Regions from separate parts of the Homo sapiens genome. Here all the other regions are reported to be linked to region 5. The links are microRNA targets in miRTarBase. Many come from high-throughput screens and were not tested one by one. Region 5 holds a microRNA gene; each other region holds the end of a gene's coding sequence.
What was found. The annotated mature microRNA hsa-miR-5590-3p reads AAUAAAGUUCAUGUAUGGCAA and lies in region 5 at 1,968-1,988, opposite strand. An mRNA with a match to its seed (bases 2 to 7 or 8) in the 3' UTR can be bound and repressed. Matches are read on the target gene's strand: a 7mer-m8 pairs with bases 2 to 8, a 7mer-A1 pairs with bases 2 to 7 and ends in A, and an 8mer does both.

Region 1 (5,395 bases), not on the chromosome of region 5:
ACCCGGGAGGCGGAGCTTGCAGTGAACGCAGATCGCGCCACTGCACTCCAGCCTGGGCGACAGAGCGAGACTCCGTCTCAAAAAACAAACAAACAAACAAACAAACAAACAGAATCTAGAGCCTATCCTCTTGATATTCATTTACCTCTCGGTAGCCCTAGAGTTATTTTTACTAAAGGGCTAGGTCTCTTCAGAATGTAGAAGAAAATCTCTGTTTTAAGCCAACTGCTTAAGACCCAATAGATTAGGAAACGAATGCTAAAAGAAGTGACCTGTGCATGTCCAAGTATGTGTCAGAAGTGGGTGTCAATTAAAGACTCATAAAGTCCACGTGAAATATTTCTATTGCATTGACCTACATTTCAAAATTTACCCAGGAGTGCCTTATCTACTCTGCTTAGAAAATCCCAGCCACAGGCCTATTATTAAAGCTTTTAGAAAAAGAAAAAGAAAAAGTAAAAAAAAAAAAGATAGTCTAAGAACAAAGCAACAAACGAAACAAAATGCTTATTTTTGGTTCTTATGGTTCTCTGTTCTCATGCCAATACATGCTCCCTTGCTGCTCCCCTGCTTGTTCCCTTGCTGCTTCAGCCTCTAAATTAATTTATTCAACAAATGTTTGAGCATCTTGTATGAGGCAGCTAGCTCCAAGCACTTGAGATTAATTTGTGAGGTGATGGATATGTTAATTAGCTTGATATAATCATTCCGCTACATGTGTGTTCATATATAGAGATACATCACATTGTACCTATTACACATCACAATAATTCATAAATTAAAAATAAAAATTCAAATTAAAAAAAAGACAAAATCCCTGTGACCATGGAACTCTATTTTTTTTTTTAAAGAAAGCACCTGCAAAATAAAAGATTTTGGGGTCATTGGCAAAGAAAGATTAAAAAAAATTTCAAGATGCTATTTAAGAAAAGTTCTTACATCCTGATACACAGAAGCAAGTACCATTTTTAATGTTCATATCTGCTTTTTCAATTAGTTTATGTAAGATAATATACATTGTATTCTTGTAACAATCTTTATTGAACAAAAATAGGCCATCTTTCAGCATCTTTTATTCTTCATCATTCGACTGTTATTATATAACACAATCCAAATGAACACATAGTTTGGGGAAATTTAGGACTATACACACGACTAAGAAAATGTCTCCTAAGTAAACAGTATGTGTTTTCTTCATTGTCTAGGTCTGGCCAGTTCAACCTACTCTATGGTACTCTACGGTGTCAATAATTATTTCAGTCTCTGCTGCAATTAGTGCTAATTACAATACCTGAGCTATAAAAATAAAAGATTTCATTATAGCAAAGTTCACAAATATCGTTTTAGTTCAGTTATCCACATTGTTCATCTAAAATAATACATTTTCTTTACATATAACTGTCTTAGACTTGTAATTGAGGATATTTGATGAAACAGATCTGTATCTGAAACAGCACTATGATGCTAAACATTTGCATAAGGAATGAAAAAAGTTAGCAACCTAGTTTTTTCAATATTCAGATATTTGAGATTACACAGAAAACTACATCCAGATGAATGACTGAATTATTCACTTTTCTTCTGAGCATTTTGGCATTGGATAGACACAGCATTCAAGTTTAATGCATTTTAGGAACAGGTTCAGTTTACATATTTAACGCACATTAAAAAAACACAAAGCCAAAAGAAATTTCTAATTTAGAAACATATACATCAAATACATAGCATTGATTACTATTTTAAAATAACTATAGAGAAATACAATTGTTGGTTCTGGTTGTACCTCTATTAAAACAAGTTACTCCATTGGAAAATATCTTTTTTCTTAATAAGAATCAATTCCATGTTTTTCAAAATGTAAATAATCTTTCAATGCTTATCATTACAGGTACATAATAGAATTATACTATCTATAGTAAAGATTTAGGTTGATATTTTATTCTATATGAGGATGGTTGGGATTTAAGTGTTAATTCCTTTAAAACAACGTCTGTTTATTTAGTTGTTAATTAAAATATGTGAGAAATGGCCCCTCTCTCATAGACACATTCACAAATGTAAGAGGAACATTTTAAACTTATCCGATTCTATTTTGAAGCAAATAAAAATTGAGATAAATAAAATGCATTCATTAAGGTACAGTCATAGAACTTACTGAAAGAGAGTCTCTAACTTAGTTATTAAAAGGAACTCCTAAATATATTTTTAAATGTCTCCTGCTACAAGTTTCTTTTTTTTTTTTAAACAAATGATGCAATGAGTATAACACAGTAAACTTTGCTGGATGTATAATGCCATATATATTTAAAGGAAAAAAACACACTGGCCAGGCACGGTGGCTCACACCTGTAATCCCAGCATTTTGGGAGGAGACTGAGGCAGGTGGATCGCCTGAGGTCAGGAGTTCGAGACCAGCCTGGCCAACATGGTGAAACCCCGTCTCTATTAAAAATATAAAAATTAGCCGGGCATGGTGGCAGGTACCTGTAATCCCAGCTACTTGGGAGGCGGAGGCAGGGAGAATCACTTGAACCTGGGAAGCAGAGTTGCAGTGAGCCAAGATCGCTCCATTGCACTCCAGCCTGGGCAACAAGAGCGAGATTTCATCTCAAAAAAAAAAAAAAAAAAAAATCATATGGATCCAAAGCCCACTTGATCAAGCCAGGAATTAATAAAAGGAATTTAGAATATACAGAACAAAAACAACTTTAAAATGAAGATTGATAAAAACATGATTAATATCAACCTGAGTTCTTACCTTTCAACATGTTATCTCTCATAACAATTTCAGGAAATAACAGCCTGATTCTTCTTTTTTTTCATTCCAAAGATGCTTCAAAACATGCTGTGCTAGATTACATGGTGAATAACTTTCTATAGGACCCACAAGGCCTGCAAGGGAAGTTGGGCCCCAGGGTGGAGGTGGGAGACTGAACATAAATTAAAACTAAATGATCTGCTTCCCTGTCAGGAACCTATAGAGATGGTTAGGGCCACTGAGAACAGTGGGAGAATTACAAGGAACAGGACTTGGGAGACTAGCAGTATTCTAGTTTGTATGATTATTTTTAGAAATATGAAGGAGTCAGAAGAAACCTCAGACCTTCATCTTTTATTTTATCCTAGTCACTTCATCTGAAAGCTCTATGGATCATCCATAAAGCTAATTATTTTTTTCCTTGGGTAGCCGGTTTTATGAAAAATATGAATGCTCCTTGATTTAACAATAGGATTACATACAGATAAAGAAGTCAAAGGTTGAAAACATTGTAAGTCTGAAATGCATTTCAGATACCTAAATGGAAAATCATAGCCCACCCTAACTTAAACCTGCTTAAACGTGCTCAGAACATATACCTCATCCTACAGTTGGGCAAATTGTCTAACACAAACCCTATTTTATAATAAAGTGTTGAATATTTCATGGACCATGTATCACTAGCCCTCCAAAAAATAACAAAATTCAAAATTCAAAGCATGTAGAAATTATGAAGCTTTCACAGAATCATGAAAAAACCGTTAAGTTGAACCATTGTGGTTGGGACCTGCCTGTGCTAATGAATGACACTGAACTATTCTGAAAATAGAAGTGCTACATAAATATGTCATAATATTACTTTTACAGCTAACGATATTTTCCAATTCTCCAAATCTTTAAATTTCTTTAAATATGCCATTTTGATCAGAGGTATGCCATTAAATCTCAGAATCTAAGTTCATTTATTGATTAAAGATTTCCTTTAATACATTTTTATTAACTGTCTCCTAGGATACACTGATCCAAATGTATATATTGTGGTTTGACAGATCCATCCTGCAAAACCAATGGTTTAATATGCTTTCTACGGTTGCAAAAAGGTTCTAAACAAAAGAAATGACTTTTCAGTCCAGACAACTTAACTGTAGTCATTAACTGAGTCTGCAACTTTGAATGCCCTATGAAACCTATTAATCAGATAATTATTCAAGGGTCAATTCCTCTTGCTTGTGAGCTATCTTCCAATTATTCATGAGTGCATTTTTTTGATTAGTGATATTCCTATAGAAAATCAGAACTCTTATGGATTAACACTGCCATTGATTTGTTTCAATAACACATTGGTTTTCAAAAAATATGCATCTGGGTTTATTGAATCAACATGGCTATTGTACTTTCATCAGACCCCTGTTTTGTGATATATATTACCTGCTTTCATATTTGTATTTTAGAACTCACTCTTCATTCCCTATTCCACTACCCAACTTCATACCAAAAATCCTGCCAAGTATTTCAGAAAACTTGGTTATTAACTTGGATTAATTACAGTAGACATACATAGGAGATGTGTCTATAGAATGCCAAAATATTTAATTGTGTCAGAAATTTAGTCATTCATCCAAATATTTTGTCCATATGATGCCAAACATACTTAATGAATTATGTTAGCTGACAAAATTCTTAACAGAATTGTCTTAGCATTATTTAGACAAAATAATTGTTATTAGTTCAAAATAATACCAATAGCAATAAACACCATCAAAGAAACAACGTATTTAGGTTGGCACAAATTCCAACCTTGAGGAAAATGACTTCAGTTGGCTCATGTGGACCAAACCCTTACTGATATGGTTGTAATTTGGATTCTAAGAATGCTGAGAACCCACAATATTTTATTATCCTCCAGTTGATTTTGACAACTATATCATAGAAGTACTAGATATCCAAATGAACCGGGAGAATTACATGTTAGATAGCATTTGAGTTAAACCAGACCAATTTATATGGGACAATTTACTGTTGACAACAAAATATTTCTGACTGTGGGTATTCAATTCAATGAGGTTATTGCTTAAGGATCATAATTGGTCTGGAATCTTTGAAAATGTGTAGGCTACTTTATAAAGTTACATAAAATTGTGAAAAAGTTGCATGCTTTAGAAACAGTATTTCCATCAAGCTTGTGGTCTAAAAAGAATATGAAGACAATAGCAAATGGACGTTTTTAACACAGTTTCTTAGTATTTACAGTATTTTTTCTTCTCTAGCTGCCATCCCTTCAAAGCTGGTCAATGGTTTTTCTGGGGCTTTTTTCACCTCACATTCAGAGCAAGGAGGCATTTGCAATTTCTGTTAAACAATACAGAAAAGACAATTCGAAGAATCAAAATAACACATTTTAAGGTAAAAATTGAAAAGTCTAAAAGAATAAGAATGGAAATTCAAAGATCTCAACAAATATCTTAGAGAAAATGAACACAGGACAGAAATGAAACAAATGTGAAGATGTTAATTATATTTCATAAAAGTACATAACAATATTTTGCCTAAAAACAGCAAAACATTTCAAAAACTATTTTGAAAAAACTTTGCCCAAGCCATTCAATTCTGTTTAATCTAATTCAAAGTTTGAAAATA
Region 2 (5,342 bases), not on the chromosome of region 5:
AATACTAAGTTGGTGGTGGTTTTGAAGGGGCTTTTTAAAAATACAGTGTATATTTTCAAAATACCCTGGGGACATTTTTTTCACCATAAGATATAAAATGATCTTTAAGTGTTCAGATGTTCAGGAAACAGCAGAGAAAGAGGCACAGTTTTATTTAGAAATAGTTACTATTTTGGATAGATTCCTTGTTACTTGGGCATTCTTTTCATTCATTGAAGCTGGATTTTTAAATTTTATATTGCTGCTATTTTTAAAATACATTTTATTTATTTTTTTTGCAGATCCGGAGTTCTGTAACTCACTTGTTGTGTGCATCAAAAGATTTCAGTTGGTGGCGTCATAGTCTCATTACAGTGTCTATCTTGGCATTTACCAATTTACTTGTCATCTTTGTCCCAACTATTAGGGATATCTTTGGTTTTATTGGTAAGTTTTAGAAAGTATCCAAGTGGATTCAAACATCAGGGATTTTAAGATTTAAAGAATGAATGACGAGTGGTTCATTGAATCCTCAAGAAACATAAATGTTGTTTTACAGGTGCATCTGCAGCTTCTATGTTGATTTTTATTCTTCCTTCTGCCTTCTATATCAAGTTGGTGAAGAAAGAACCTATGAAATCTGTACAAAAGATTGGGGTGAGTGAAAGATTATAACCATAGAAACAGTAATAATATCATAAATTTCCCCAACTGATTTTAATTTTATTCTCATAGCTGTTATTTGTTATGGTTTCACTTTTAAGTTTCCAGCAAACATTTCTGTAATGGTATACTTCACAGATGGAAGATTGCAGAGGGAAGGGGAAAGATAGTTTGCCATCTAATGAACACTTAAATTAATTGCAATAAAGTTATTAGATACTTTGGAGATAGGAATAGGGATGAAGACTAGATGAGATACTCAGCTTTCAACATTTGTTCAACCAGTTTTCACTGGACTGCCTACTGTGTGACAGGCACTTAAATGGGCATTGAATATATAAAAGAGAAGGAAGGGCTGTTTAGTTGAATGAGACTGACCATCTTCAGAGCGAAGCTCTCAGGGAGGCCGTCTCTTCATGGTGTTTACTATTATGTATCTACTCTAAAGTGTAGTACCAGTTGGTGACAGAGAATGATGTGCTAACCACAAATGATGTGGTTCCTAGAACCAGAATCCTGGTGGTGATATTTAGGAAAAAGACTGCTTTTTAGTCATTATTTTCTCCTTCATTCTGCTCTGATTAAAGTACTAGAATTGTTTATAAACCAACAACTGTCATCTTGTTTTACTCTAAATTACATAGTGGCAGTATTGAAGGGTAGGATTTAGGAATTAGTATTTCCTGGAAAGACCTCTGGCTTTGACTTTTGCTGCATTTTAGGATGATTTGGGTTTGATTTTGTGACTTGACTTTCATTCTAAAAAATTGCAAAAAAAAATCCAGTCCAGTTCTATATGAAGCAGTTTGTTTAGCAAGAAAATTCCCTGTCACTTGAGACAAAGGAATGAAAAAGTGAAAAAGTTCAGAAGGCCTCAAAGGTAGTTATTGTGTACTGCAGATAACATACTGATCACTTAGGAGTTTATATTTAGCAAGTTAAATATTCTTTCTATAGATTATATAGTGGATAGATTTTAGTAATTAAAGCACATTTCAAAAAATAGAAGAAATGTTTAGCATATATGTTTTATTACTTGCTGATCAATTTTCTCTATGCTCTTTGCAGGCTTTGTTCTTCCTGTTAAGTGGTGTACTGGTGATGACCGGAAGCATGGCCTTGATTGTTTTGGATTGGGTACACAATGCACCTGGAGGTGGCCATTAATTGGCACCACTCAAACTCAAACTCAGTCCATCTGATGCCAGTGTTGAGTAAACTCAACTACTATGAAATTTCACCTAATGTTTTCAGTTTCACTTCCTTTTGAAGTGCAGATTCCTCGCTGGTTCTTCTGAGTGCAGAATAAGTGAACTTTTTTGTTTTGTTTTGTTTTTTTAAGAAACTTATCTGTATGTTAGAAATGGATATGAACAACAAAACCACGAGTCTCGGGTTAAGGGAAGTGACAATTTTATTCCATTCCAGAGAATGGACAAACTCTTAACTTTTATCAAGCCACATGCTTGGCTGTGTCATTGTTTAACTTGGATATTTTATGATTTTACTTGAATGTGCCTAATGGAACCATTTGATGTGAGAAACAATTCTTTTTAATTTACAGCAAAATATTGAATAACCATTGACAAAAACACTATTATTTTTTGTACCAAAAATACTTAAAGACCTCAGAAGCACTCTTTTACTTTTAAGAAATTGCTTTTTTGAACTTTATTCAGAAGCAGTTATCAATAAATTCCATAAAATAATGTCATTGGTATTTAAAAATGAATATTAATATAATGAAATGGTTTGCCTTTTTGTAGGCATAATAAGCCAAATACTTTTTTACCCAAAATAATTTTTAGAGAAAATGATGTAATGAAAAATTGTACCATGAATTAGGAGCATAGTTTTTTCCATTTAAACGTCACCATTACTTAAAAGATGATTGATTATTGCTATACCAAATCAGATGAACTCTGTTCATCACTTTTCTTCTCTGTCCCCAAACAATTTGGTTCATTCAGACTGAAATGTTTGTGTCTTCAACTTATTAGAATGGAAGATAATGCAGATATTTCTGTGGGAAATAAAATAACTAATTTTGAGGTACCAAATAGTGCAATTGGGTAAAACAGGGTTTATTCAGTTGCATCTGTCTCCAGTGTTGTATTGACAGCTCTGGGTCTTTTTTTGGGCCAGCCCTTTTTTGACATTGCTTCCAGCAGTGGAAAATGGGCATTTGATGGCAATAGGCCAAAATTATTGTGTCCAGAGAGTACACTTTTTCAAAATGCTCACCTACTGGAAGTGTGAATTACTTGACAATGTATGGCTTAGTTGTGTTCATGTTTTGTCTACAGTAGAGGTCTAATCCACAGGTTACACCTATGTTTGATATGATATAAGTTCTCTTTGCGTAGGCCACTGGGTTTCTCATGCAGTAAGCTTTATAAAAACTCATTTGCACTGGACTGTCATCTCATTCTTGTACAACGTAGAATTACTTGTTTACATCCAACAAATGGTTAGCTAGGGAAAACAGTGCAAACTGAGTGTTAGTAGTCATTTTGGTCCAACTGCATGTCAACCCTTCCATTTCAATCCCAGTTAGAAATGAAAATAATTACTTTGAAACTTGGCTTTAAGAGCACATTTATCGTACGTCACAGTGTATGGTGAATATATTATTAAATAATGTGGTACTTCGCTCATCAGGCATAATGTCTAAAATCTAATATACATAATTCCATTAAGTGGTTGAAGGAAGCAAATAATGGAATTGTCAATTGGTCATCTGGCTGTAAGGTTTGCCCTTGAACTAAAAATGTTGTTTGGGGCAAGGGCCAGAAATGTGGAGACATGGTTTTTGTTACGCATTCTTGTATTATATGTGACTAAATTTACAAACAAGATACATGTGTAATTAAAGACCCTTATGGAACTGGAAGACGTCTTGTAGTGCTACATTGGGTGAAACCGTTGGTCCATTTTTGTCTGTTTCTATGAAGATAAAATAATTGGGGGCCATCTAGAAATAGAAAGGCAGTGGGAAGACAGATTCTACGGCACTGCTTTCATTTAATTGGGCTTTAGGCACTCCATTCGAATGCAGAACCTCACCTCTAGTTGAGACCAAGAATTGGCAAATTTGCATGAGCTCCTGGAAAGAGTTGCTGACTTTGTATCTAAGACCTGCCAGGGAATACCAAGAGTTGTTTCTACAGACTTTTTTTTTTTTTTTTGTATGGGAGAAGATACTGTGGCAACCAGGAAGGAATGGAAAAAAAATTCTTTTCTCTACAGCAAATTAATGTGAGGAAGCTCCTCCAATCCTCTGGCTATTTAAGGTTCAAAATCAAGTGCCTAGGGAAAATTCCAATGGATGATTTTCTGGGAGCTATCTTGTCTACCTTGAGGTTCCTGAACAATGAATTCCCATTAATGAGCAGTCTTCAGTATTAAAACCACTGTCTTGTCACCTCATTTTGCATTACTGTCTTCCGTGGATGTTTCAGTTACAACTGTAATGTTATTTATAGAACAACATTAATCCATTAAAGCTAACCTATTTTTCAATATTTATGATAATCTATGTACATATATTGTCTGTCCATATGTATTTGTAAATAGGTTGTATATAATGTCAGGTTTGGGTCTTGGGTTCAAGTGTATATATTCCTGTAAGTTTCTTAACTGCATTTTGATGAATTCACATTATGTAACTATAAGAATTGTCCCAAAAGTACCTGTACAGAAAATTGAATATTGAAAAATTGACAAATTGTGTACAAACACTAAAAAAAACTTGTTTAAATTGTATTTGCAATAAACAACATCAAATTTTTTCATGAAATCTTGGTACAAATTCAGATCTCTTATTTAAAATTTAAATAAGGAATACATTTTCAAAATGCAGTAATCAAAATGTGATCTAGTGTAATGAAATAAAATGTGATCTAGTGTAATGGAAGACCTTTGAGAACCTGGGTGTATTAACTTTGTGTATATAGTGTAAATATCCCCACTGTACTGTTAGAGGCCAACAATTCTAGTATGGCTTGTTGGCAAAGAGTGCTACACCGTTTCAATGAAACAATGTATGTTTGTTTTAACTGAACTAAAATAAATACATGCTTAATCCTGAGTAGCAGTGTTTTTTGTTTTGTTTTGTTTTGTTTTTTTCAGGTAATGGGATAGGCAGTGTCTAATGCAAATTGCATTGTAACTGCAGTACCTAGCACCTAGTAGGTGTCCATATGTTTGTGATGAATGGTCAGGAAAAAAAGTTTAGGTTCCCAGAGATTCTAAGTTTCCAAAGTGAGAAGGAATGGAAAGTCTTGGAGAGTTGGGGGAAGATGCTAAAATGCATCATAAGAGCCCAGGCTCAGCCCTGCTGATGGAAATAAATAGGTCAATAATGTATCAGAATCAACTGGAGAGCCTTTTAAAACCACAGCTTTCTGAAACGTGCCTAGTTTGTCTGATTGCAAAGGTCCAGCTGTAGGGTAGCCCAGGATCTGGTTTTTTACTTAAGAAGGCCACTCGGGTGATAATGATGCACAAACTCCAGGAGCAATCAAGTGGCCTGGAAAGAAGTTGGGATATGTTCAGTTTGGTGAAAAAGTCACAGGAAAAGAGGAATTAATGGACAAGCTGGTGCGTGTAACAGCATGGTTTTACTTGAGCAACAGTGGAAGTGGGAAGGTTACTAAGATACACAGGCTAGTTTAGGTATGGCCTACTGATAAGTCCGA
Region 3 (5,427 bases), not on the chromosome of region 5:
TTCTGTCTCAAAAAAAAGCAGGGGTCGGTGGTGGGGGTGGTGGGAAGTGAGGATAATTGTACCTACTCACAGGGTTGTAAAAATGAGTTAATTCAGATAAGAATTTAAAGCGACACCCAGTACTCTGTGACATCTTACTAGATACTACTCACAGTCCCATTGGAGTTTTACTGCTAATGCTAGTCTGTGTACTCCTTTTCGTTCTGATTAGAGATATTTTGGAGCTTACTGTATCTTCTGATAATTCTTCTCCATAGGCCTCTAGCATTATTTATTTTAAAAAGCAAATCCTAAAATATAGGTTTAAGATTTCCTTAATACTTTACAGGGGGAAGGAAATTAGCAAGAAATCTTTGTTGCCAGTACATGTTTTTTAAAGGTTTTTTAGTTAATTCAGAATAAACATTGCAAATCTAAAGTTTGTTCTAGTATTGTTGTTTTTGTTTTTTTGAGATGGAGTCTCACTCACAGGAGTGCAGTGGCACGATCTCGGCTCACTGCATCCTCCACCGGTTGAAGCAATTCCCTTGCCTCAGCCTCCTGAGTAGGCAGGACTACAGGCGTGCACCACCATGCCCAGCTAATTTTTGTATTTTAGTAGAGACAAGGTTTCACCATGTTGGCCAGGCTAGTCTTGAACTCCTGACCTCAAGTGATCACCCGCCTCAGCCTCCCAAAGTGCTGGGATTACAGGCATGAGCCACTGCACCCAGCCAATTTTTTTGTTGTTGTTTTTTAATCACTAAAGGAACCATAAAAATAGAAACTATGTAGGAGGAAGAACACATGGTTTCTGGTCATACTCTGTCAAGAAGTAGATATGTAACATATTGGGCATTTAACTTAAAAATTCTAAGTCATGTTTTCTTTTTCCACTATAAGATTGTACTAGGTGATATAAAGTTCATGTCACTTAAAATTCAACGACTGTGTAAGTAGCTCTTTCAGCTTTTCATTAAGTTCATTTTTGGAAATGTGCACATCTATGCCATCATTGGGCAGTTATAATTTGGGGATTTAAACACCTGGCAGTGATTGACCACTGTGACTTTGCTTATTCCCTTTCTCTCCTCAGTTACCGAGCTGATACCCAGACATACCAGCCTTATAACAAAGACTGGATTAAAGAGAAGATCTACGTGCTCCTTCGTCGGCAGGCCCAACAGGCTGGGAAATAATTGTGTTGGAAGCACTGGGGGGGTTGGGGTGGGCTTGGAACACAGGTGTGTACAGCGTGCTGTAGTGGAAGTTTTGTATCATAGTAATCCTGTTTCCACTTTGTTATACTCTAGCCAAGATTGACTGTATTAGATGAAATGTGAGGATCTTGTTCAATCGGAAACCCCCGTTACCTCCTCTTTTTCTTTCTCTTTCTTTTTTTTTTTTTACTTAAACATTTTTATGATGATTTAGATGGAAGTTGTTCTTCGTCACTTAATGTTGGTTCCAGTCCTTCAACTGTTCATATCTACTTTATAACATTCACATACTAACCCTTCTTCAAGATGGGGTGGGGGGTGGAAATGCAGTTTAGCCATGTCCTCAAGATAAAGTCTTGGTAAAAATAAATAAATGTCCTTTAGTTATATTTTCTCCCTGAGTGCTTTTTTTTTTTTTGTCTTTGAACATTGAATTTTCTTGCAAAGCATTTTTTCATTTTAAGTTTAAAAACCAATAGCTGCTACACAAAGAATTTGAAGAAAGTTTAAGTAGTGCGCAACACATTTTGCTGTGAAGCTAATAACACTTTTACCTCACTTTTCCAGCATAATTAAATGAATCTTAATTATAGCTCCAAGGTTTGTACCTACTATTGACGCAAACGTTATAAATGACTTTCTGGTGATAAAGCTTGTCCGCAGCAGCAGCAGCAGACAGATGAACTTCTTAGTGTTGATCAGATGAAGTACTCTTTCTAGGAGGTCTTTGTGCCCTTTTCAGAGCCTTCAGTTGGATACTAGTTACCCACTACTGTAGGGAAGCTATAAGGGCAAGGGAAAAACCACAAAAAAGTGTAAGATAGTCTTGTCTCTTTTTTGTTGTTGTTTTTTTGAGACAGTCTCACTCTGTACCCAAGCTGGAGTGTACTTCCAATCATGTCAATCATGTATTTTCAATCAGCAAGTACATGAGCACTCTCTGATTCTGCTATTAGCACTTTACCAACAGCCAGTGATATCTTGACACAGCATAAGATTGAAAGTTTTTTGGAAGGCTCATGATTGGTTTAATATCCCCCTGTTCCTGCCTCTACTTGCACATTAGGGCCTTAACTATTTTTTTTGTTGTTTTATGCAAGACAAAATTTTACCTAGAACATACTCATATGTGCTCAGTTTTTCTATAGAATAATCTGGTTAATGAAATGTTATCACTGTACCAAGAGATTATTAGAATTTTAGGGTACCTGACAAAATTAAGTAGAGTTGTAGTTAATGTTTCACTGTGAAACCAACCAAATTTTAAAGCTAAAATAGGCCGGGTGCGGTGGCTCACGCCTATAATCCCAGCACTTTGGGAGGTTGAGGTGGACAGATTATTTGAGGTCAGGAGTTCAAGACCAGCCTGACCAGCATGGTGAAACCCTGTCTCCACTAAAAATACAAAAAGTAGCCGGGCATGGTGGCACACGCTTGTACTATCCCAGCTACTTAGGAGGCTGAGGCAGGAGGATCCCTTGAACCAGGGAGACAGAGGTTGCAGTGAGTGAGCCGAGATTGCACCACTGCACTCCAGCTTGGGTGACAGAGACTCTGTCTCAAAAAAAAAATAAATAAAGCTAAAATAATCTCACACAAAAAGAAATAGATCCAAAAGTAATCTGATTGTCCTGTTTTTCATTTGGCCTGTCCTGCTAAAATAGTTTTATTTCTTTAACAAATAGAGGATCTTTGGCTTTATTTATTTATTAATTTATTTTTTAAATACTCTAGAGCAGATCTGAAGGGAATGAGTTCCCTTGATTCTCAGATATAGTACCATTTCTGGTGTTGGGCTTACAGAGGAAAATATGAGAAAGGAATGTGAGAAAGTATCTGGGTTCTAGATGTTGAGTGATGAGAACAAAAAGAAGGGGAGCAGTGTTTGGAATCATTAAAAGCTTAAGGAAGACTAGAACTGGAATAAATACAAAGAAACATTTGTCTATGTCCCATAATACACAGAAAAAGAGCCTAAAGTAGCCTTTTTGTGAAGGTGAAATGTGCAATGAAAGTTTCTGTGGTTTGGCCTAGGTACAACCACTGTCCTTGTGTTAGAGATTTAGAGTGTTGGTTGATTGGCCTTTCCCCAACCACAAGTAAAACAGGTTTGATTTCCGCTTATTAAGTGATATTTTATACTGCTACATAAAGGTGAAACCTCCCAGACAGATTATACAATTTCCGATTCTCTAATCCAGATTTATAATCTAAATTTATATACCTGAGAATTTCTAAAATATTTCTTGATAATGGCCATTTCTGTCCTGTAGTGCTTGATTTAAGAGGTCCCAGGAGTATAAAAAGAGTTCAACGATCTCACTTCCCTTCCAGTTCTCTGGCTTAATATATTTCCAGCAACTTACTAAATGCTCAAACAGGTTATGTGTCTTAACTCCCATTGTTGGGACAGAAGTAGTAGTGAACTGTTTTACTTTCAGCAAGAGAGGGACTTAAGGGATGAGCAAATAATTTTGTACTGTCCTAAAAGCAGACCAGGCTGGGTTGGGGGAGAGAGGACAGGGTAGTTTTCTCAGTATGATTGTCAACTTTACATCAGGATGGTCTTCCTTTATCAAATTGTTTTAACTAATCATTTGAAGGTTGGAATGAAAATCAGGATTGATACATAAATTGATTAATGTTACTATATTTGTAAGGATACTTTTATGTTCATGTTCTTTTTTTTTTTTTTTTTTTTTTTTTTTTTTTGAGACAGTCTCACTCTATCACCCAGGCTGTAGTGCAGTGGTGCAATCATGCCTCACTGCAGCCTCAATCTCCCAGGCTCAGGTGATCCACCTTAGCCTCCTGTGTAGCTGGGATTACAGGTGCACACCACCATGGCCAGCTAATTGTTTAAATTATTTTTTGTAGAGATGAGGTCTCCTTATGTTGCCCAGGCTGGTCTTGAGATCCTGGACTCAAGTGATCCACCTGCCTTGGCCTCCCAAAGTGTTGGGATTACAGGCATAAACCACTGCACCCAACCTAAGGATACTTTTGGAAGAAATATTAATTTATATGTTAGCATAATGATACTAGTATTGCCACTTAGACATAGCATTTTACTGCCTAGGAAATATTTCTACATATTTATCATCACAGCAACCCTTTGAGATAGGAAATAATTATATCTCTATTAATGGTAAAAATAAAAATAAAAATTTAGATTGCCTAAGTGATTCACCAGATCACAAAGCAATACCAAAATTTTGCTAGATGAAAAAGACAAGGTTTTAACCTCAAAGACCTTGAAGGGGAGCCCCATAATATGAATAGCTGTGCTAAATAATGGACCTCTAATTCTTGTCAAAGGGACCTTTTTAGACTCAATCAAATATTTGGATTCACAAGACCTGAAGAGGTCTTACTTGGCACCAATTTAATCAAAAGCACAGGGGACACAGAAAACAGCTTGCCAGCCCAGCATCATCAAGTGTTTCTCTTCCACGGGAGTATTCCTCATGGCAGTTCACACAGCCATCCAAGAATTATCCTCCGAACACACGGAAACACACAGTAGCTCAGATGCAAGAGATAAGACTTAGGTAAGTGCAAGAGCTACCCCAACTTAGAAGCTTCATGTACAACAAGAGCCACTAACTCTTGTAATAGCTTCATGGACATAGTTTCTAGGTCCCTGCAAGGAGCATGCCGCATTTACAAGTCATTGTATTCAGAGAAACACAAGGCCATGTCTTCCCATCAGGTATTCATTGTTTCTCCCAGTCTAGGTGTAATTTATCACATAAGGGCCATGTTTCTCATAAGCAGTCTTGTCTAGTAATACATTGCACCATTGTGTTTCCTCAGGAACAGAGCTACAATGTTAACCCAAGTTGACCATGAGTCAGTGTATTACATAATGGTGCAATGTATTACTAGACCAGATTGCTTATGAGAAGCATGGCCCTAAGTGGTTACCTTGGGTTAACTTTCTAGCTCTGTTCCTGAGGAAACATAATGGTGCAATGTATTACTAAACAGGATACTGATGGAATGATTAACCTCAGAAGAAAAAGTGACATGGAAAGTTGAAAGAGTTTGTGTTAAATGGTCTTAACTCATTAAATGAGTAAAATGAATTACTATCTTGGAGGAAAGGAGGCTGGGCATAGAATGGGGAGTCAGAAGAACAATTCTCAGAGCTCATACAGGGTGAGGAAACATAATCTGACCACTAGAGTCCTGTGTCACCAACTAAGGGATTCACTGAAGCCTCCAA
Region 4 (5,427 bases), not on the chromosome of region 5:
GAGCTGGTGCCCCGAGTGCCCAGTGTCCAGGGAACATCCCCGAGCCAAAGCTGCCCAGAGCCAGAGGCCCCATGGTGGGAGGCCGAGGAGGATGAGGAGGAAGAGAATAGATGTTTTACAAGACCACAGGCTGAGATCTCTTTCTGCCCCCATGATGCCCCCTCCTGCCTGCTGGGCCCCCAGAATCGGCCCCTGGAACCCCAAGTCCTGCATACCCTCCGTGGCCTGTTCCTGGAGCACCATCCTGGGAGCACCGCCCTTCACCTGCTATTGGTAGACTGCCAGGTGGGTCACCTCCTGGGATGCTCCTCCCCAGGCCCAGGGCAAGACCCAACCATGCCTACATAATCACGCTTCACCTGACTTCCCCATTCCCTTCTGCAGGCCACAGGCCTCCTGGGAGTGACCAGAGATCAGCGGGGCAACATGGGAGTCTCATCTGGCCTGGAGCTGCTCACTCTTCCCCATGGACACCACTTGAGGTTGGAACTGCTGGAGAGGTGAGCCAGCAGCTTGTAATCTTGGTTGGGGGAGGCCAATTCCCCCCACTTCCCAAGATCTCCAAACAGCTCCCCACTCATGGTTCCCCAGGGAAGAAGGGAGATGGGGCAATGCCACCTCCTGTCCCCCCTCACCCCTGCATTACAAACCTCCCCACTTCCCCCAGACCCTTGCCCTCCACCTCTGCAGGCATCAGACACTGGCGCTGGCCGGGGCGCTGGCGGTGCTGGGCTGCTCGGGGCCGCTGGAGGAGCGCGCAGCCGCACTGAGGGGACTGGTAGAGCTGGCGCTGGCGCTGCGGCCAGGGGCGGCGGGGGACCTGCCCGGGCTGGCTGCAGTCATGGGCGCCCTGCTCATGCCCCAGGTTCGTGGGGAGCAGGGACTGGAGGAAGCTGGAGTGCGGGTGACTGGGAAGACTGGAGAGGAGGCGTGCTCAGATCTCTTCTCCCAGGTGTCCCGGTTGGAGCACACGTGGCGCCAGCTCCGAAGGAGCCACACGGAGGCTGCGCTGGCCTTTGAGCAGGAGCTGAAGCCGCTGATGCGGGCTCTGGATGAGGGCGCTGGTAAGTGAAGGTCTGGGGCTTAGCATCCCCTGGGGGCCCAGACCAAATTTAACAGGACTCAATCTAGTCCTATGCCCAGTCCCTGCATCTGTTCTAGGCCCGGTCCCTTCACCATAGGCCCCGCCCTCCACATGAGGGTTGGTCCTGGCCCTTTCCCTAGGCCCCGCCCTCCACACGAGACTTGTTCCTAGGCCACGCCCCCACCAGCCTTGGTCCCAGCCCCTTTCCCTAGGCTACGCCCCTTCGCCATAGGCCCCGCCCTCCATACGGGGCGTGTGGTCCTGGCCCCTCTCCACAGACCCCGCTGTCGCTCAGTCCTAAGCCCCGCCCCTGCATTTGTCCTAGGTTCCACCTCTGCCCTATGCCCCATCTACAGCCCCAAACCCTGATCAGACCCTCCCCCTCCGCAGGACCCTGCGACCCCGGCGAGGTGGCGCTGCCGCACGTGGCACCCATGGTTCGCCTACTGGAGGGCGAGGAAGTCGCGGGGCCGCTGGACGAGAGCTGTGAGCGGCTGTTGCGCACCCTGCACGGGGCGCGTCACATGGTCCGGGACGCACCCAAATTCCGCAAGGTGGCAGCCCAGCGCCTGCGAGGTGAGCGTTCCCTCTGCGCTGGACTGCAGACTTCAGAGCACCCTGCAGGTTCTAACCGGATCCCCCAAACCCAGCCTGTCCCAGGAGGGGAGCCTCTCGCCACGCCTCCCGGAGCCCCACCCAAACTGGGACGGCTCCACTCCAGGAAGGTTCTCACCCCAAGCAAACGCTGCATCCAGCGGTATTGATAGGAACAGGGCCGTCCACCTCAAAACGGGCTGTCCTGCCCCCAGAGCCACCTCCGCGGGTCCCCACTCCCCCTTCCCACCTAAGACGATCCCGTCCCCCAGGGATCTCGATCCCCAAGAACGCCCTGCTCCCTCCAAAACGACTCCTCCGTCCTATCCTAGGGCAGCCCACCCGGCAAGATCCCCCCACCTTCCCCGACAACCTGGGATCCCGTCCTCGGGGCAGCCCCACGTCCAGGCACAGCCCCTAAGGCGGGACCTCCAGGATCTGGCACCTGGAACAGGCCACCCCATTGCACTGCGGTAGAGCCCCTCAGGCACCCCACCCCCATTCCTGCAGAGAGCTGGAAGCCCCCTCCCCTCTGACCCCGCCTAGTCATCCCGCAGGTGGGGCAGGTCCCTCCCGGGCCCCTGTTGGGTCAAAGTCCTCTGGGGAAAGGAAGGTGCCGGGAGGTTGGGAGGGGCGAGGCGGGCGCCTGGGCCCCGCCCCCAGCCCACCTGACCTTGCTTCCAGGATTCCGGCCTAACCCGGAGCTGAGGGAGGCCCTGACCACCGGCTTCGTGCGGAGGCTGCTCTGGGGTAGCCGGGGCGCGGGAGCTCCGCGCGCTGAACGCTTTGAGAAGTTCCAGCGCGTCCTCGGCGTCCTGTCGCAGCGCCTGGAGCCTGACCGCTGAGAGCGCAGACACCCTTCTTCACACCCGGGACCCCCAGGTTTTTGCGAACCCCAGAAGAGACCAAAGGAGTCGTCCCAGGCTCCTCGCGCCTCAGGTGGAATCCTGCCCTGTGCCTCACAGAAGAGGTGGGGACCGCAGTCAGGGTCACCTGGACCATGGTGAACATGTGACCTGCAGATCTGGCATCAGAGGCCAGAGTTCAAATGTGACTCCACCTCTTAAAAGCCGTGATTTCTAGCAGTTGACTTCACCTCTGTGTCGGCCTTTAACAAAATCATAGCCATACAGCAGCTCAGGCCTGTAATCTCAGCACTTTGGGAGGCCGAGGCGGAAGGAAGGCTTGAGGCCAGGAGTTCAAGACCAGCCAGGGCAACATGGTGAGACCTCATCTCTACAAAAACTGAAAAATAAAAAACTTTTAAAAAATGTAAAAGTTGAGGCTGTGTACTTTCTAAGAATTGTGGCCAGGAATGAGACCCCAGGTGGAGAATGCCTGGCACACAGTAGGTCTTCAATAAGTGCTACCCATTCTCAGAAGCTGCAGTGCATTCAGAAGGGATGAAACTTGGGTGTCCTGGCCAGGTGCGGTGGCTCACGCCATAATCCCAGCACTTTAGGAGGCCGAGGCAGATGGATCACTTGAGGTCAGGAGTTCAAGACCAGCCTGGCCAACATGGCAAAACCCTGTCTCTACAAAAAATACAAAAATTAGCTGGGCATGATGGTGTGTGCCTGTAATCCCAGCTACTTGGGAGGCTGAGGCAGAATTGCTTGAACTCGGGAGATGGAGTCTGCAGTGAGCTGAGATCACGTACGCCACTGCACTCCAGCCTGGGCAACTGGGTGAGACTGTCTCAAAAAGAAAAAAAAAAGAAACTTGGTATCCTTCTCCCTACCTGAGTCACAAGCAGACACCCACTGACAATGACATAGGCCAACTTCCAGAAAGGGGCAGGGTTGACCCAAGGTGTGCCCAAGATCACCTCCCCTTCCTCATTCCCTGTGTGGCCTGTAAGAAACGTGGTGTTAGATACTTCCAGTCCCAGTATTTAAATCCTCTAATAAGACACCGACTCTAGGAACTTTATATAATTTCTTTTTTTTTTTTCCCATTTTTGTATAAAACAAAATGGCCGGAGCCGAGCGGCAGAAAGAAAAGATGTAAAACATGAGTATGTACATCAATGGTGGAACGATGGTAGAAGGCACAGCGGGTCCGTCCGGTGTGACAGGTAGGACTGGGTTGGGGGTGGAGGGGGCAGCAGGTTACACAGGTCTCAGCCGAAGCCACGGGGTCAGAAATAAAGTGCATAGGTCCTGGGGCTCCCCGTGGCCCAGAAGCAGCAGCCGACAGCCCCCCTCTTCCCGTCTCTGGCAGGGTTCAATTGAGCGTGACTCGGAGGTAGGAGGTGGGCACGTAGCCCTCGCCTCCCTCTTTCCGCCTGACCCGGGTCCAGCCGTCCCCTTTGTCTTCTTCCATAAGACTGAGGTCTTCACCCTCGGCCATAGAGATAGTGCCCTCGCTGGACCCTGTGATGGGGGTGGGGGTGGGCCCAGATCTGCTTTAGGCAAAATTTATTATTTTTATTTTTTATTTTTGAGACAGAGCCTCGCTCTCGCCCAGGCTGGAGTGCAGTGGCACGGATCTTGGCTCCCTGCAACCTCTGCCTCCAGGTTCAAGGGATTCTCCTGCCTCAGCCTCCCGAGTAGCTGGGATCACAGGCGTGCGCCACCACACCTGGCTAATTTTTGTACTTTCAGTAGAGATGGGGTTTCACCGTGTTCGCCAGGCTGGTATGGAATTCTTGACCTCAAGTGATCTGCCTGCCTCAGCTTCCCAAAGTGCTGGGATTACAAGCCTGAGCCACCCGCCCAGCCCTGCTTTAGGCGAATTTAAACTGAACCTAGCCAGAGACACTGCCTCCCATACCCCGCCAAGCCCACTCTGGCCGTTCTCACCTTCAAAGTGGTAGATGGCCACACAGTGACCTATGGGGGATGTGGGTTCCTCCTCGAAATCCTCATCAAACTCCGTGTAAATGGGGGTGTCCTGGCTCTCTTCTGAGGGAGGCTCTTCAGAGCTGTTTGGGGATAATTCGGCAGATAAAGACAGGCCCTCCTGGGACCCTGGGAACAGACCCACTCTGACGTCACCCCTCACCTCTCCTTGGTGTCCTGTGATGCGCTGTTGCTGCTGCTGTCTGGCGGGGCGCTAGCGGGGGGGTCGGGAGGCCGGGCGTGCCGGCTCAGGCTGTCTCCCCGGTTGCTAAGGACTCGACTTTCAGCTTCTGCCAGCCACGCCTGGGAGGAGGGGACAGGAAAATCGTTCCAGGGCAGAGCTCCGGGGTCAGCCCACTTTGGACCCAGAGGTTCCCTGAGATCACCCACGCACAGCCAAGGCTGTGATGGAAAACAGCTGGAGACCCCCCGCTCCGAACACCTCCCCTGTCCCCGACCCCCCACCCCACCCAGCAGTGACTCAGCCAGGCCCGCTGGCTCCCGCCCCTCCCCAGGGTCTTTCCTGACCTCATACTTCTGCACTTCCAATTTCAGCCGTTCAATGTTGCTCAGGGTTTCAGCGATCTGGGGCTCCAAGCTGGCGGGGTCCCCCATCTGAGGTGTCTTCTCATAGACATCCTTCATTTTCTTTAGGGCTTCCCTATGACAAGGGAGACAGGATAGACAGGAAAACATACTTCCGTGTGAGTTTTTTTGTTGCTGTTGTTTTGTTTTGTTTGAGTCAGGGTCTCATTCTGACTCTTTCCCCAGGCTGGTGTGCAGTGGTGCAATCATGGCTCACTGCAACCTTAACCTCCCGGGCTCAAGTGATACTCCTGCCTCAGCCTCCTGAGTAACTGGGACTATAGACCCGCATCACCACACTCGCCTGATTTTTCAAAAATT
Region 5 (5,427 bases):
GATTACACAATTAACTATTTTTAACTGCTTCCATTTCCAACCCTGATGTGTCAGTGGGAATGTTCTGTGTATGATGCACCGAGACAAACTACAGAAAGAAATTGGATCTTAAGTGTTATTAAGCAGGCAATTGTCATTCTTAGTTTTGTGATTTCCAGTTTTTACTATTTTAATTGATTTTATAATAAGTAAATACTATACATTTGAACTAATTTTTAAAAATAATAAAATGCCATTTTTATCTTTTTCATGATATAGCATTCTATTTTAAAACAGGGTATAACTCATATGAAACATTTTGAATCCACACTCTAAAAGCATTGTAGTGGAAGGCCCTGTCCCTCCCACAGTGAAGCTGGAACAGCCTGTCCTGGCAGAGAAAAGGGGGTCAGAAGTTACCATCACATAAAGTTGTCAGCAAACTTTAAGGGCAGACATTGCTTTTACATCAGATGCTAACATTGGTAGCACTTCTCATCGTACCTTTTTGGTCCATTTCTCTAATACGAACTTCTGGATCCCAGCAATTCTCTCGCACCACTCTGAAGACTTTCCCATCTTTCAACAACTTTGCTTCTCCCTGGGGCAGAAAACCCACATTACTAAAATGCAACCTAAGACCACTTGGACTAATCTTTCCTCATGTGCTTTAGAACGTATTTCTTCCCTAATATTTGAAAAGATTTTTACTTAATCCTTGTGGAAGTAGAAATCAGTAATTTAACAAAAATCAGCTTTCTTTCCTCATGCTTTTCTTTGGCCTAGAGTTGAAGGGGTGTGCTCTGTGGGCGTCAATGGCTGGACACAGAGATAGCAAGGTTGAGGTTATGTTTCTCTGGGCTGCCTGACTGAGAATGGCTGATCACCTTGCTGATCTGAACCCCTGGCTACTAGATACAAGAGGATGGCCCAGCGTCTGGAAAATGGTAGTTCTATAACATTTAGAATTGAAAAGAACCTTTGAGATAGACCACCTAGTCCAACCCTCTCATTTTATGGAGAAGCAATATATGGATAATGGCAGTGTATGATTTGTCAAACAGAGCAGGGCCCACTAGTGTCAATACCTGTGGGAGGAGGTGGGCAAAGAAGTCAGTCTGGTAGCAAGCACAAAATTTGGTACTGAGCTACTTCTTCCACCAGGCATCATGCTTGCCTGGGTACACAGCAATAATTTTTATACATTTTAAATGACAAATAAAAATTGCATATATTTATGCTGTACAACATTATCTTTTGATATATGTGTGCATTGTGGAATGGCTAAATCAAGCTAATTAAAATGTCCATTACTTCACATACTTATTTTTTTTGAGGTGATGACACTTAAAATCTATTCTTTTAGCAATTTTCAAGTATACAATACATTTTTATTAACTATAGTCACCATATTGTGCAATAGATATGAACTTATTCCTCCTGTCTAACTGAAATTTCATATCCTCTGACCTTCTCAATCTCTCCCCACCCCTTCAGCCTGTGGTAACCACCATTTTTCTTGATGCTTCTGTGAGTTAGACTTTTTTAGATTCTACATATAAGTACAGTATTTGTCTTTTTATGTCTGGCTTATTTCACTTAACATAATATCCTTCAGTGTTATTCATGTTGTTGTAAATGATAGAATTTCCTTTTTATAAAGGCTGAATAGTATTCCATTATGTATATATGCCACATTTTCTTTATCCATTCATCCACTGATGGACACTTAGATTGATTCCATATCTTGGCTATTTTGAATGATGCTACATTGAACATGGGAATGCAGATATTTCTTCAACATACTGGTTTCATTTCCTCTGCATATATAGCCAGAAGTAGAATTGCTGGATCATATAGTAGTTCTATTTTTACTTTTTCTCAGGAAAACATATGATCATATCAATAGATACAGACAAATTTCTACATCCTTTTATGACTTTAAAAAACCTCAATAAATTAGGTATAGAAGGAATAAAGCTGTGGGATTGCCATACATGAACTTTATTGTTGATCAACACAATAAAGTCTATGTATGGCAATCCCACAGCTAACATCATACTTGATGGTGAAAATGATGAAAAGTTGAAAACTTTTTCTCTAAGATCAGGAACATGACAAGGGGGCTCATTTTGCCACTTCTCAACATCATAAAGGAAGTTCTAGCCAGAGCAATGAAGCAAGAAAAAGAAACAAAAGTCACCTAAATCAGAATGAAAGAAGTTAAATTGTTTTTGTTTGCAGACAACATGGTTTTATACATAGAAAACCCTAAATATTCCACCAAAAAACTGTTAAACTAATAAATTGGGTAACGTTGCAGAATACAAAATTGATATATAAAAGCCCATAGCATTTCTGTATGTTAACAATCTGCAAAAGATATCAGGCAATCCCATTATTTATTTATTTATTTCTCGAGATAGAGTCTTGTTCTGTTGCCCAGACTGGAGTGGAGTGCAGTGGTATGATCTCGGCTCACTGCAGCCTCTGCCTCCCAGGTTCAAGCAATTCTCCTGCCTTTGCCTCCCAAGTAGCTGGGATTACAGACATGCGCCACCACGCCCGGCTAATTTTTGTGTTTTTAGTAGAGACGGGGTTTCACCATGTTGGCCAGGCTGGTCTTGAACTTCTGACCTCATGATCCACCGGCCTCAGCCTCCCAAAGTGCTGGGATTACAGGCATAAGCCACTGCTCCCAGCATTAGGCAATCCCATTTAAAATAGTATTTAAAAATACTTAGGAATGAATCTAACCAAAAAGGTGAAAGATCTGAAAACTATAATACATTGATGAAAAAATTAAAGAAGACACAGACGAATGGAAAAACATCCCATGTTCGTGGATTGAAAAATTGATATTGTTTAAATGTCCATACTACCTAAAACAATCTATAGATTTAATAAAATGCCCCCCAAAATTCCAATGACATTTTTACAGAAATAGAAAAAAAAACCATACATTTCATGTAAACCACAAAAGATCTCAAATAGTCAAAGCAATTTGGAGCAAACAGAACAAAGCTGGAGGAACTAAAAACCTTTTGCACAGTAAAGGAAACGATCAACAGAGTAGAGAGACAGTTTATGGAACAGGAGAAAATATTTGTGAACCATATATCTGATAAGGAGTTACCATCCAAACTATATAAGGAACTCAAAGAACTCAATGGCAAGAAAACAAATAACTGGGTGAAAAAAGGGGCAAAGGACCTGAAAAGACATTTCTCAGAATAGATATACAAATGGCCAATAGGTATAAGAAAAAATGTTCAACTTCACTAATCATTGAGAAATGAGATATCATCTCATACTTGTTAGGATGGCTGTTATCAAAAAGACAAAAGATAATGTGTTGATAAGGATGCGGAGAAAAAGGAACCCTTGTATGCTCTTATTTGGTAACTGGTACAGCCATTATGGAATACACAACTTTTTAATACTCAGAGCAGGGGACCAAACTAAATGGTTGTGCAGAACATGGCAGTGGCATCTACGTTGGGCCTCCAGTTTGTGATTCCTAAAGAAAAGGGGAAGAACTAGGGTAGGCCCTGGAAATAAAATTGCCTGAATTCAAATTCTTGTTCTGCCACTTACTATGTGGTCTTGAGCAAGTTAAACAATATCTTCAAGCTTCAGTTTGTTTATCTTTAAAATAGGGATGATAATGACTTACCTTAAAAAATTAATGTGACTTACATTAAAGGGATCATGTCAGCATGAAATAAGATAATCCATATAAAGCGCTTAGTGGAGTATCTGACACATAAGTGTTATTATGGTTATTTGTTATTAATGTTGTATAACTAGGGGCTAGACAGTGTTCCTCTGCTTTGAGGGCACACCACCTTTGGTGGTGCTTCAGGGCCTCAAGGTTACCTTTGGGCCCCATAGAATGTCCAAGTGGGTGTGCAATGATCAAAGGCTTTGAGCTCTGCTTGGTGGAGTCCTCTGCTCTCCTCCTCCTCCTCTTGGCTTGATCATGAATTGCATCCAAGGCTTCATCCTTCTACTCCATAGACAAGACATCCTTCTACTCCATCTCCTGCATGAAGAAGTCTGGATGCTTTTCACCTTTAAGTGCTGTAGCCTGTTCATTTTGCACATATATGAGGAAGACTTCAGATCCACATTTTATTTCTCAGGGATGGGGAACAGGTCAGTGAGCAAGTTGACTTGTGTAATTGTGACAGGTGTCCACACACTAGCAGAGCTGGGTCTCTGACATCAGGACACCAAGATTGATGTGCTTCAGCTCTGATCCTCCGTTGACCATGCCAGCATCTGAACCACTTCCTAGGTTGGGGAATCTCCTGCAGCAGTCGTGGTGGAGGCAGGGCCTAGCCTTCTTCTGCAGAAGGCCAAATACTTGCTCTCCCTGCCCCAAGCTTGGCCAATCAATGCTTGGTTTTGCATTACGTGATGCAAAAAAACAGGAAGAGTTGAATTTATTCTGCCAGTGATTCCAGCAGTGGCCATGTACAGTGGCTATTGGCAGTGGTGCTGGGGGCAGTATCCAGCTGGGGCAGCAGCCTCCTTGCCAGGCTGTTCCTGTGGTGTTGCCTTGGCTGTGGCTTCAATCATGGGAATTCCCTGAGTTTCTGCAAGTTTTCTGAGCTTGATTCCACAGATACTTTGTAGTTCTTGAGGGGCTTAAAATATTTCAACAAATTTCTTTTCTTCTTACACTAATGATTGTTGGTTTCTGTTGCCTGCAACCAAGAGTCCTGACTGATAATGATTGCACAAATAGGATATAGGAACACATGTCTTTTCATTTGGTGAAGAAGGGAGAGGAGAGGGGTGATGGTGAAAAAAAAAAGTTGAGAAACAAACTTTGATTTGGCAAATTGGAGGATTTATTTATTTTTGCTCCTTGCTGGGAAAGCTTAATCACTATAAAATACCCAGTATAGCAGAGTGCCAAAGAGCACAGTCTTTGCATTCAGACAGCTCTGGGTTTAAATCTCATTAAATTACTTAGTAGCAGCACTGACTGGTGAAGTTACGGGCCCTCTGAGTTTAAGCCTCACTTTTTCTGTCTGTAAAATGTGGATCATTATACTTGTCATGCTTGTGGCCATCCAACATCCTTGGAACACATCCTATGTGTGAAGTAACGTTCACAATTATAAATTCTGCTTTCTTGAGGTAGAATCCAAAATATGCTTTCCCAGTCTCCCTTGTAATGGGGCATTAGCATGTGCTCTGGGCTTTGCCAATTATATGCACCCACCTGTGCATATAACTTTGACCTGGAAGTGAGCAATGTGAGGAAGTAGGGACTATGCAGAGTCCACCTGTAGACAGGGGTGTTGTCTAAGATGTTGAACATGACTGGAGCAGCAGAGGCAAAGCTTCTAGTCTCCAGCCTTGGCAGCATTAGCATGAGCATCCTGTCCATGACTGGGAGTGGCAACACTTGCATCCTTGTTGGAGCAGCTCACC
Region 6 (5,427 bases), not on the chromosome of region 5:
CCTTTACCACCCACATAAAATATGTCTTACTGCTCACAAGATCAAAAGAAAACAGAACAAAACATTGAAACATCAGAATTGTTTAAAACACTAGATTTCATTCAATGGTCCGATTGGACACTTGCTCATTGGAACTTATTTCTGCTTCAGCTCTAGTTCTTTGAGAAACACAAGAATTCCTTTCACCAAAATATTAGCCTGACACAAGAATGTTGAAAGGTTAGCTGCCTTAGCTTTATTGCTGCCTATAATCTCCAAAGATATCTGAACACCTAGAAGATTAAATGTAGCAAGAAGTGGAAGAGAAACACAGTTTATAAGTCATTTAATAACTATAATTGCATAGAATTTACTCACTTTTCAAATACTTATTCTGAATGAATACCAAATTTGTGAAACAAAATATATCCTATGGTGCTTAGAATGGTTGTTAAATGGTGAGTTAGTTTTCCAAGTAAAAACTTTACGTGCATTAACAGAGGGGAATGCATAATAATCCTATGAGGTAGGCCCTATTATCCTCATTGAATAGAAGAGAAAAGGAGGCTCAAAAAAATTAAGTAACCCACAAAAAGTCACACAGCTGTGACTGTCAGTGTCCTGCTGGGCACTGCAAACTAGGCCACTTTTAAAGTAAGATCATTTTAAATTGAGTACTCTTACTTACAAAATGAACACATTAATGTGATAATTGACAAAATATTTCAGATGCTGGACTTATAGAAAGTTTAAGGAAAACCAAGATTAAGGATTCCAGATTCAGGTAACTCTCTTTATCTTTTTTTTAGACAGGGGTCTCACTTTGTCAGCCAGTACAGTGGCGTGATCTCAGTTCACTGCAACCTCTGCTTCCCAGGTTCAGGTGATCCTCTGACCTCAGCTTCCTGAGTAGCTGGGACCACAAGTGCATGCCATCACGCCTGGCTAATTTTTTTTTTTTTTTTAGAGACAGGGTTTCACCATGTTGGCCAGGCTGGTCTCAAATCCTGAGTTCAGGCGATCCGCCCACCTCTGCCTCCCAGAGTTCTGAGATTACATGCGTGAGCCACTGTGCCAGGCATTAGGTCCCTTTCAAATTCAAGATATTCCTAATTTTTCTGGTCTACTATTGCAGGGTAAGGGAAGAATCTTCTTCCTCTTTTTTTTTTTTTTTTTTTTTTTGAGACCGTGTCTCAGTCTGTCGCCCAGGCTGGAGTGCAGTGGCGCCATCTCGGCTCACCGAAACCTCTGCCTCCCAGGTTCAAGTGATTCTCCTGCCTCAGTCTCCCAAGTAGCTGAGACTACAGGCACCTGCCACTATGCCTGGCTAATTTTTGTAGAGATGGAGTTTCACTGTGTTGGCCAGGCTGGTCTTGAGCTCCTGATCTTGTGATCCGCCCGCCTTGGCCTCCTGAAGTGCTGGGATTACAGGTGTGAGCCACTGTGCCCGACTGGTGGGAAGAATCTTCTATGGCTTAAAAAACAAACGTAGGCTGGGTGTGGTGGCTCAGGCCGGGTATGGTGGCTCATGCCTGTAATCATCCCAGCACTCTGGGAGGTTGAGGCGGGTGGATCACCTAAGGTCAGGAGTTCGAGACCAGCCTGACCAACATGGAGAAACCCCATCTCTACTAAAAACACAAAATTAGCCAGGTGTGGTGGCGCATGCCTTAATCCCAGCTACTCGGGAGGCTGAGGCAGGAGAATCGCTTGAACCTGGGAGGCAGAAGTTGTGGTGAGCCGAGATCACGCCATTGCACTCCAGCCTGGGCAACAGAGTGAAACTCCATCTCAAAAAACAACGACAACAACAACAACACAACAACAAACGCAGCAATTCCATTCCTAGGTGTACACCCAAAAAAATTGAAAACAGGTATTCAAACAAATATTTGTACACAAATGTTCACTGAAGCATTATTCACAATAGCCAAAAGAAGGAAACAACCCAAATCATCAACAGATACCGGATAAACAAAATATGATATCCATACAATGGAATATTATTTAGCCATAAAAAGGAATAAAGTACTGATACATGCTATAATGTTGGTTAAACTTGAAAATATGATGATGTCCCGGTGTGGTAGCTCACACCTATAATCCCAGCACTTTGGGAGGCCGAGGCAGTTGGATCACCTGAGGTCAGCTCAGGACCAGCTGGGCCAACATGGTGAAACCCTGTCTCTATACTAAAGGTACAAAAATTAGCTGGGCGTGGTGGTACACACTAGTAATCCCAGCTACTTGGGAAGCTGAGGCAGGAGAATCTCTTGAACCTGGGAGGCGGAGGTTGAGATTGCGCCATTGCACTCCAGCCTGGGCAATAAGAGTAAAACTCTGTCTCAAAAAAAAAAAAAAAAAGAAAAGAAAATATTATGCTAAGTGAAAGAAGCCAGATACATAAAAAGGTCACATATCATATGATTCCATTTATATGAAATATCCAGAATAGGTAAATCCACAGAGACAGGGTGCAGATTAGTGGCTATTGTTAGCAGTCGGAGGAGAAGGGAATGGGGACTAACTGCTTAATAGGTATAGGGCCTCCTTTGGGGGTGATAAGAATGTTCTGCAACTAGAGAGTAGTGATGGTTGCACACCACTGTAAATGTTCTGCCAACGAATGGTACACTTTAAAATGGTGAATTTTATGATATATGAATTTCACCTCTTTTAAGTTCCAAATAAGGCATCAGTGTAGCGGAGGTCCTCTAATCTGTCTGGTTGGCAAAGCACCTAGTAGTTTACAGTACAGAAGAAGCTTTAAAAATGCTTTTAATTTGTATAAAGTGCAAAGAAAAAGAATATTGAGAAGCACATGAAAGAATATAAAATGGCTAGAGCCTAAAAAATAAGCTAATATACACGCATAGGGACACATCTGCATATTTGAGCATACAGAGACATGTAAATACTCAGGAGAGAAATTTGCTTTTCCTCATAACTTATTTTGTGTTTCTCCAAAACCTGAAGAGTAGATAACAGCTGACAGTTACCCCCCTCTGAGTGTGACAAGAGGTCACGCACAGGGAGGGCCTCTAGCTGCCATTTCCTGTTGCTTCCCTGGTCAAACAACGCAGGCGGCTAAGTCACTTTAGGAAACGCTCAACAGGGCTCCCATTGTTCCAACCTCAAAATTCCGAGATACAACGGGCCCCATTAATACAGACAGCTTACAGGCTGGGGGATGGTCCCTTAGTGTGCAGTCCACTTTTTATTGGGACACTGAATTTTCAAAAACACTGACTTGCACAAATAGTGTTAATTATTTTTTTTAAATGGTACAGAAATAAAATTCAAAAGATACTAAACTGGGAGTCAGGACACCTGAGTCTTACCCTCAGCTCTCTGATGCGACTTTAAGCAAAGTCGCTTGCTCTTTCTGGACCTCAGTTTCCTTGTTTGTAAAAACAGAAATGATTTCTAAGATCACTCAGAATTGTAAAATTCTATGAACACTTATGAAGTCTATTGAGCTTGCGTCACTGTTCACTCCAATGAGTGGGGATAAGTTGTAAGCAGAAAAATATCATTACTTCACATCTTTTCGTTCACTATCAACACTTAAAAACAAACAGCCTTAATAAAAATCAAGTCCACTTTGTTTTCTCTCTTAAACAGACAAATCATAACGAACAGAGTCCAGTGAGTCCCTCTGTCGCAACAAGTTCAGGATCACTCAAGCAGGTAACCGCACACAACGCACAATGATGAAGAGCATAAACACAAGCCATAAGTATATTTTTATGTCGCTTTTTCTTAGGTTATTGATGCATTTCCAGAATCTCTTCATTTCTTTGCAATAACTGAAAACCCCAGAAGAAAGACACCATTTACATTAAGAATGTGATCAATGTTACAAGCTTCTGCACCATGTCATTTTTTTGTTTTTTCAACCTCAAAACTTGCCAGAGCAAGAATTTTGTCTCCAGAGCCTAAGAAAAAAGACACATAATAAACAAAAAGATTATTTCAAGTGCAGTTGCAATTCCTGGTAAAGTGGGAAAAAATCTATCATATAGATATTAAAACAGAAAATATAATTAGCCTCCATTATCAGTGTATTAACCCCTACACGTTCCCATTGCCATCCCAATTTCCTTCCCTCTGCACAAACAATCCAGCTACAAAGGGGGACTTATTAGTTATAAATCCTTATTCTAGCTATGAAATATAATATGTAAAATTTAATTTATTTATTTATTTATTTTTTTGAGATGGAGTTTCGCTCTTGTCGCCCAGGCTGGAGTGCAGTGGTGCGATCTCGGCTCACTGCAACTTCCACCTCCTGGGTTCAAGCAATTATCCTTGCCTCAGCCTCCCTAGTAGCTGGGATTACAGGCACGTGCCACCATGCCCAGCCAATTTTTGTGTTTTTGGTAGAGAGGGTTTCACCCTGTTGGCCGGGCTGGTCTCGAACTCCTGACCTCAGGTGATCCACCCACTTCAGCCTCCCAAAGTGCTGGGATTACAGGCTTGAGCCACCGCACCTGGCCATAAAATTTATTTTAAAACATTTCTGTGAAAAAAAAAAATAAAGAAAGAAGAAATATTTTTTGCGGGGAGACAGGTCTTGCTCTGTCACCCAGGCTGGAGTACAATGGCATGATCTTGGCTCACTGCAGCCTCAAATATCTGGGTTCAAGTGATCCTCCTGCCTCAGCTTCTCAAGTAGCTAGAACTGTAAGTGCATGCCACCACACCTAGCTAATTTTTTTTCTTTTTAATTTTGTTTATTTATTCATTTATTTATTTATTTGAGATGAGTCTCGCTCTGTCGCCCAGGCTGGTGTGCAGTGGCACAATCTCGGCTCACTGCAAGCTCCGCCTCCTGGGTTCACACCATTCTCCTGCCTCAGCCTCCCAAGTAGCTGGGACTACAGGTGCCCACCACCACACCCAGCTAATTTTTTGTGTTTTTCGTAGAGACAGGGTTTCACTGTATTAGCCAGGATGGTCTCGATCTCCTGACCTCGTGATCTGCCCGCCTCGGCCTCACAAAGTGCTGGGATTACAGGTGTGAGCCACCGCACCCGGCCTTGGCCTCCCGCTTTTTAATTTTGAAGACAAAGGGTCTCACCATGTTGCCCAGGCTGGTCTAGAACTCCTGGCCTCAAGCATATAATTTTAGTTTTCTGTTATAGTTACGTCTACCTGACAAGTATTTTAAAAACATTAGGCTGCATTAATTTATTTTTAATATTGGGGAATAAAACCAATACAATGGATTTATAAAGAAAACAATTCTGGTTTCACTCTTAAACTCAAGGAAAGGTTATTATGTTATTTCAACCACACTCTCCATCAGTTTGTATGTAATATATGACAGTAGTATACGACCAGCTTTCAGAAATATGAGGGCACTCACCAAGGTCTGTAGAGACTTTCTCAAACTGGCTGAGTATAGCACCTGCATTTGCTGACAAGAAGGCCTCATCATCTGCA

Region 1: the mRNA of LUZP2 is a reported target of hsa-miR-5590-3p. Seed matches in the 3' UTR shown: 8mer at 4,878-4,885 and 7mer-m8 at 3,405-3,411.
Region 2: miRTarBase lists SLC38A2 as a target of hsa-miR-5590-3p. Seed matches in the 3' UTR shown: 7mer-m8 at 2,311-2,317 and 7mer-A1 at 3,034-3,040.
Region 3: miRTarBase lists ERH as a target of hsa-miR-5590-3p. Seed matches in the 3' UTR shown: 8mer at 1,471-1,478.
Region 4: the mRNA of TRIP10 is a reported target of hsa-miR-5590-3p. Seed matches in the 3' UTR shown: 7mer-m8 at 3,825-3,831.
Region 6: miRTarBase lists LZIC as a target of hsa-miR-5590-3p. Seed matches in the 3' UTR shown: 8mer at 2,766-2,773 and 7mer-m8 at 2,003-2,009.

Annotation. Positions count from the first base shown.
Region 1 is chr11:25,078,266-25,083,660 of GRCh38, reverse strand. LUZP2 (leucine zipper protein 2) reads right to left here. Exons shown (of 12, transcript NM_001009909.4): 12 at 1,023-5,107. The coding sequence ends at 5,003. Among named protein-coding and RNA genes, the nearest start is that of LINC02699, 370 kb to the left of the region's middle.
Region 2 is chr12:46,357,578-46,362,919 of GRCh38, reverse strand. It overlaps SLC38A2 (solute carrier family 38 member 2), which reads left to right. Exons shown (of 16, transcript NM_018976.5): 14 at 282-426; 15 at 539-636; 16 at 1,711-4,732. The coding sequence ends at 1,809. Among named protein-coding and RNA genes, the nearest start is that of SLC38A2, 13 kb to the left of the region's middle.
Region 3 is chr14:69,376,289-69,381,715 of GRCh38, reverse strand. ERH (ERH mRNA splicing and mitosis factor) reads left to right here. Exons shown (of 4, transcript NM_004450.3): 4 at 1,076-1,588. The coding sequence ends at 1,178. It also overlaps a transcript of GALNT16 not described here. Among named protein-coding and RNA genes, the nearest start is that of ERH, 19 kb to the left of the region's middle.
Region 4 is chr19:6,749,689-6,755,115 of GRCh38, reverse strand. It overlaps TRIP10 (thyroid hormone receptor interactor 10), which reads right to left. Exons shown (of 15, transcript NM_001288962.2): 12 at 5,050-5,182; 13 at 4,685-4,824; 14 at 4,483-4,604; 15 at 3,586-4,053. The coding sequence ends at 3,905. SH2D3A (SH2 domain containing 3A) reads left to right here. Exons shown (of 10, transcript NM_005490.3): 5 at 1-285; 6 at 385-500; 7 at 691-865; 8 at 953-1,064; 9 at 1,475-1,660; 10 at 2,363-2,956. The coding sequence ends at 2,523. Among named protein-coding and RNA genes, the nearest start is that of TRIP10, 13 kb to the right of the region's middle. RefSeq lists silencers at 1,157-1,366, 1,537-1,716.
Region 5 is chr2:134,854,414-134,859,840 of GRCh38, reverse strand. It overlaps MIR5590 (microRNA 5590), which reads right to left and starts at 2,021; the gene lies at 1,968-2,021. It overlaps ACMSD (aminocarboxymuconate semialdehyde decarboxylase), which reads right to left. Exons shown (of 10, transcript NM_138326.3): 3 at 484-580. RefSeq lists a silencer at 716-916.
Region 6 is chr1:9,926,541-9,931,967 of GRCh38, forward strand. It overlaps LZIC (leucine zipper and CTNNBIP1 domain containing), which reads right to left. Exons shown (of 8, transcript NM_032368.5): 7 at 5,351-5,427; 8 at 1-3,917. The coding sequence ends at 3,859. Among named protein-coding and RNA genes, the nearest start is that of LZIC, 14 kb to the right of the region's middle. RefSeq lists enhancers at 1,274-1,783, 4,273-4,772.